Linked DNA regions of Homo sapiens: region 2 is linked to region 1. The links come from fine-mapping of genetic effects on gene expression. A gene starts in region 1. The other region holds a variant in brackets. All regions are shown on one strand. Distances are from middle to middle.

Region 1 (2,912 bases):
GCTCAAGAAGTGGAGTGGCCTTCCCAGAATGGCACAGGAAGTAGCAGGCTCAATATTTTGCCCAGTACCCATTCTCCCAAAACCTATACTCAGAGGTATTAGAGACAGGACCTTCTGGAAAACAGTGTAAATGTGTTTTCCCCTCCTCCTCTATCAGAACCTGGCCTAGTCAAGAGTGAAAGCAACATAATTGTTAGTGGTAGAGGGAAGGAGGCTTCATTTCCCCCTTTTCTTATCAAACAAAGAGCACAGAGGCGCTGAAAATGTATACACACCTATAAACTTACATATGCATAAAATGTATTCTGAATATTCAAGAAACTGATAACCCTGGTTGCCTCCAGAGAGAACTGGAGAGCTGCAGAATAGGAATGAGGGGTCCCTTTTTATTGTATACCTTTTAAAACTGAAAACCATGTTAAGTATAATATACTATCAAAAAATAGCCTTTAGTTTTAAGGTGAATTTTTTTAAAGCTTTGAAAGAATACAAATAATGTTTATAAAATATGTGTTCTGCAACTCCACTTGTTGCTGGGTGACCTTGGGCAAATCACTTCACCTGTCTCATGCCCTGTTTCCTCACTTGTAAAATACAGCCAAGAGCATTACCTACAAGGGTTTTTATGAGGGTTAAACAAGACAGTGCAAGTAAAGCGTTTAGCACAGTACTCGGCACGCTGTAAGCCTACAGTAAATGTCAGTTACCATTATTACTTAGCATTAATATTGTTATCTTTGCTTTACTTCAAGCAGCACCCCACATACACACCTGTTTTCATGGCATACCCACAATTATGGCGCAGTATAGCGCTTTGTACTTCATAAACCACCTCATCACACTTCATCGTCTTTCAAACGTTTGGTAGCCCTGGGACATCACTGTTAACTCATTTCGCAGCTAAGGAAATGGAGGCAGTAGGAGGCAGTAACTCCAAAACCCTGTTTTCCCGTCTCTAAAATCCAGATCCCATCAACCCATTCGTTGCTCCCAGGTCCCTTGCTCTCGGAATCGTGTTCCGCGCGGCACTGACCTGAGCGAGCGCCCCGGGGCCCGGGACCTCGCGCCGGGTTCACAGCTACTAGGCACGCTCGGACCGCCAGAGCCTTGCAGCGGCCGGGTCCGCTCCGCAGCCATGGCGCCTGCAGGGAAAGAAAAACAGCCAAGGCGCGGCGGGTCAGCAGAGCCGCGGGCGCCTAAGAGTCCCCTCCCCGACCGGCCCCGCCTCGCATACAGACCCGGACCTGCGGCCGCTGCTCCCGGTCCGCAGCCTCACAGGGGAGCGGCTTCCGGTGCTGCCTGCGTCATCTCCGCGCGTCCCTCAGCTCCGCGGCTCCCGGCGGAAGCGGCTGCACTTCCGGTCCCCGCCCGGAGGTGGGTGGTGGGAGGCTGGAGGCCGGGAGTAGGGGTGGGGAGAAGAGCGTCCCGGGAAGCTGAACGCGTGCCGCGCGGCCCTCACGGTGCTTAGGCTGGGTGCAACCTAGAACGGAGGTTCCTTTCGTACCGTACATCCAGGTTTGCACAGCGCGCTTATGTCCCTCCTCCAATCTGATCTTGCACCAGCTCTGCAGTAGTTTTTCTTATTATCCTCATTTTACGGAGGAGAGGGAGCTGTGGCTTAGAGAAGTTAAGAGACGTGTCCAAATTCATACAACCTGTTGGGCACCTCTTTATCCCGAACGCTGTTCTAGGGGATAGGGTTAGTGAACAAAAAACGCAAAAGCCCCTGACCGCCTGGGCCTTACATCTATTAGGAGGAGGAAGACAGATAAACTAAGGCTCGTGCAAAGGAGAAAAATAAAGCAAGGTAAGGAGGTTGTTGAATGAAAAGAGACAGTCAAGTGATGTAGATTTGAATGAATCACAACGTTTACACTCTGGCTGTGGCCCGGTTACTTAACCTCTCAGACTTTGCTTCATCTGCATAGCAATTATAGTGAGGTCCCCATCCGAAGGCTCTGAGGATTGAAGGAAATGAAGCATGCAAACCTTTTGGCGTCAAGAACTAAAACTGAGCTAAAAAATCCCACGCACTCTTTCTCAACATTTTTTGTGTACCATCTCACTCAGTTCCCACAACAACCCCACAAGCTAGTAACTATTATTAGGCCCCTTTTTAGAGATGGGGAAACTGAAATCAAAAGAGGTTTAGGCATCTTGCCTAAGGTCATAGTAAATGGCTGTCATAGGATTTCAACCCAAACCGACTTCAGAGCACAAGTTATCCTTTTTTTTTTTTTGAGGCAACGTATCACTCTGTCGCCCAGGCTGGAGTACAGTGACACGATCTTGGCTCACTGCAGCCTCGACTTCTCCAGGCTCAAGCGATCCTCCCACCTCAGCCTCCTGAGTAGAAGGGACCACAGGCGCGTGTCACCATGCCCAGCTAGTTGTGTGTGTGTGTGTGTGTGTGTGTGTGTGTGTGTGTGTGTATTTTTGTAGAGTCAGGGTTTCGCTATGTTACCCAGGCTGGTCTTGAACTCCTAGGCTCAAGTGATCCACCTGCCTGGGCCTCCCAAAAAGTGCTGGGATTACAGGGGTGAACCACAATGCCCAGCGCACAAGTTATCCTTGTTTCTCTGTAAGGGTTCCTAAGCCATACATGCATACACGCACATTCACATACATCTTATACCAACACTGTCCAATAAGCTTTTTGCCAGTGATGGAGTTGTTCTGTTGGTGCTGTCCAATAAGGCAGTCACTAGTCTCTTGTGGCTACTGAACATTTGAAAAGTACCTGATGTAAATGAACTAAATTCTTAATTTTATTTAATTTTAATTTAATAGCCACATGAGGCTAATGGCTACCATGCTTGATAGCACAGTCCAATAATATAGACAATAAGAGAGACACATATCCAGTAGATGGTAGAGCATGGCCAAGGTTCCAAGCATCCTGACTTCATTTA
Region 2 (2,912 bases), 140 kb after region 1:
CTTTGGCCTCCCAAAGTGCTGGGATTATAGGCATGAGCCTACAATCTTTTTGTAAATTTTAAAAATAATTCTAGCATATATATCTAGCAACACTTTCTGGAGATCATTGTCTTAATCATTTCAGATGTGCACTTGTAACATTTTAAAATGCAAAATCAAATAGATAAGAAAAGCCATTCTGTCTACTGCCATCCTTGGTTACTATCTTCTGTAACCAGTGCCCAGCTGCACAGCCAGAGAGCTGTGGGTAGGGCCCATGGCTCTCTCTGGCCCCTGTGATTGCTGAAACTGGAACTGCTTGGGGAGCCCTGGGGCCCTGGCACCAGCTCCTGCTCAGTCCTGCTTCTCCTTTCACAGGGAACATGTCTACACACCAGCTCTCCTGAGCAGTCTTGGAACCCCTCCAAGGACAGCCCTGGACACTGGCCAAGGGGGAGGGTGCCCCTGGGAAGGACGTATCTATCAGGAAGCAGAGACTGTGGCAGGCAGGCATACACACGCACATGCTCGCAGGATGGCTGGCTTACCCAAGATTTCAAAAGAAGTTGGAAATCTGGATTTTTATGTGAAACGACTTGATTTTTAGAACACCCTATAAGCCAAAAAATAAACCCAAACCAAATGAGCATCCCTATGAACTGTGTCTGTGGGCCACTATTTGTGACCTCTGGTAGAGCCTGGCACTCCATAAACACAACAAAAGCAGATGTGTGAACGTGCCCACATGTAACTCACCCGGGCTGTTCACATTGTTCATCCAGATGTGGACCCTGCACACACATAATAGAGACCTTCATTGGACATTGACACACACATAGTATCTCCCGGGATGTGGTTTTAATATTTGCACTTTCCACCTAAGGAGACTGAATGTCAGAAAGATCTCTAAGATCATGTCAAAATCTAGGCTGCCTGACCACAAAGCCAGTGTTCTGAACCGCTGCACAAACCACCACCCAGATGCCTGCACTCTGAATTAAAATTGCCAGTTACTTTGCATCCTTCTCTAAACTAAGCTTTATGAATTTAGAGACTGTGTTTCATTTGCTGGTGCATCCCATCACCTGGCACTATGCCCAGCAGAGCACAGAAGGTGCTCAATACGTACTGGTGGGATTGTACCCACAGGCTCATACAAACGTGTACAGACAGGGCACATGTAAACCCACATAGCCCCACCATGCTGAAGAACACATGCACACTGACGTTCCCACATGCACA[C/T]CACCCACCTCCATCTCCCACCCGCCAGGGCATTGGACCCTAAGCTGGGGCAGCCCAAGTTTCCCCTGCCAGCCCCCTGCCAGCCTTGCCCAAAGCCTTCAGAAATAGTTTCCTGGAAATCTCGAGGCGGCTGTGGTGTTCTTTTTCCTAACTCAGGAGACAACTCAGCAGTTTTGTTTTTCAAAGTCTGAGACTCATAAACCTGGAATCCTTTCTTCATTTTTTCCACCAGAATTTTCCTTGGCCTGTTGCCTTCCCCCAGGGCCTTGGCTAGGAGGTTACACTCGGAGCGCCCTCTGCCGGGCACTGTCCTCCCAACCTTGTGGGCAGTTGCAGATGGGACCTGCCCCAGGCTGCTTTACAGATGGGAACCTAAGTCAGATGGTGGTAGTGAGGAGAGGTTAGAGGATACTGGCCCATTGCAAGTGTGTGCCAGTGTTATTACTAGCAAGGGATCTTTTGTGATTTTTTTTTACGTTTTTGAAAATAAAAGAATAAATAGCTTCAAGAGCTCAGATGAAGGCCCTCTGCTCTCCCAAGGGCCTCTGTGTGGGGCAGATGACAGAGGTTTGGGAAAATCACCTCATTCAACTTTATTCTTGGGTCTCCATCACATTTAATAAGTGAGGAAATGGAGACACAGAGAGATTTTGGGGGAAGAGGTGCGAGGAATATTTATTGAATGGCTGCTATGTGCAAGGTATACTTATGAATCTCTGTCATTTCATCTTGGCAAATAAACCTGTAGGGTAGTTGCTTTTGTTTCCATTTTACAGATTAAGACATAGAGGCTCAGTGAGGTCTCTCAAGGTCAGAAAGGGAAGGGGAAGAGCTAGGATTTGAATCCAAATCTTCTTTTTCTTGGCTTCGTAGCCTCCTGGATTTTTTCCATTTGGCTGCAGGTCTGAGTTCAGTGGGGCCCAGGGTGGAGCCTTTGTGGCTGGACTCATCAGAGGCCAGGGTTCCTTGGCCTGGCTGCCCAGAAAGGCAAGCCTTTCTCCTTGTACACTACCAGAGAGCAATCTTTGGGGGACACAGTCTTTAGGGGACACAGGGGAATGGGTCAAGCAGCCCCACCAGGACTCAGAGCTGGGAATAGGCTCCTGGGACTGGCAGCTGTGCCAAGGCCCCTTAACAGTAAAAAACAGGATCAAATGCCTTTATCAACCAAACGCATGAGAGGCTCCAAAGGGCAGGGTTTTTTCTGGGAAAGAAAGCAGGTCCTGAAAGGTTTTTGTTTTGTTTTTCTTCTTAATGGGACCCTACATTTCACCAAGAGTTAGTCACTACCCTCCCTAATCCATCCTCCATCCTGCAGCGCTGTCCAGAAACTTTCAAAATGTCTCAGTTCCTGCAGGAAAACATCCAAACCCTTTATCTTGTTTGTTTTTGGTCTGGCTTGGCCTTATCTTCCACTTGTCTCATATAAGCAAACTGCTTAAGGGTCTCTGTCTGCACCTCCCTTGAGTCCCACTGCTGGGTGTTTGCTTACATTACTTCTCCTCTCAGAAATAACTTCATTTCAGTGTATCCAAACCTTAGTCATTCTTCCAGACCCAGCTTAGAGGCCATCTTCTCCATGGAGCCTTCTCCACTGCATGCAGCAGAAATGAACCTGCCTTGTACTTGTCTCATGGGCACATGTTGTAGTTCCCCTAATAGACTGAATCCCTTAAGAAACAGTGTTGGAT

What was found. PIP is the estimated chance that this variant, and not a neighbour inherited with it, causes the effect.
Region 2: its variant is fine-mapped to the expression of B3GALT9 in whole blood (INTERVAL, PIP 0.92).

What each region holds. Positions count from the first base shown.
Region 1 is chr9:120,792,116-120,795,027 of GRCh38, forward strand. B3GALT9 (beta-1,3-galactosyltransferase 9) reads left to right here and starts at 1,352. Exons shown (of 3, transcript NM_001386823.1): 1 at 1,352-1,807. It overlaps FBXW2 (F-box and WD repeat domain containing 2), which reads right to left and starts at 1,301. Exons shown (of 8, transcript NM_012164.4): 1 at 1,239-1,301; 2 at 1,034-1,142. RefSeq lists enhancers at 1,002-1,632, 1,695-1,794, 2,225-2,314.
Region 2 is chr9:120,935,181-120,938,092 of GRCh38, forward strand. No RefSeq gene overlaps it. Among named protein-coding and RNA genes, the nearest start is that of TRAF1, 9.8 kb to the left of the region's middle. The variant C/T (reference allele first, on the strand shown) is at 1,222.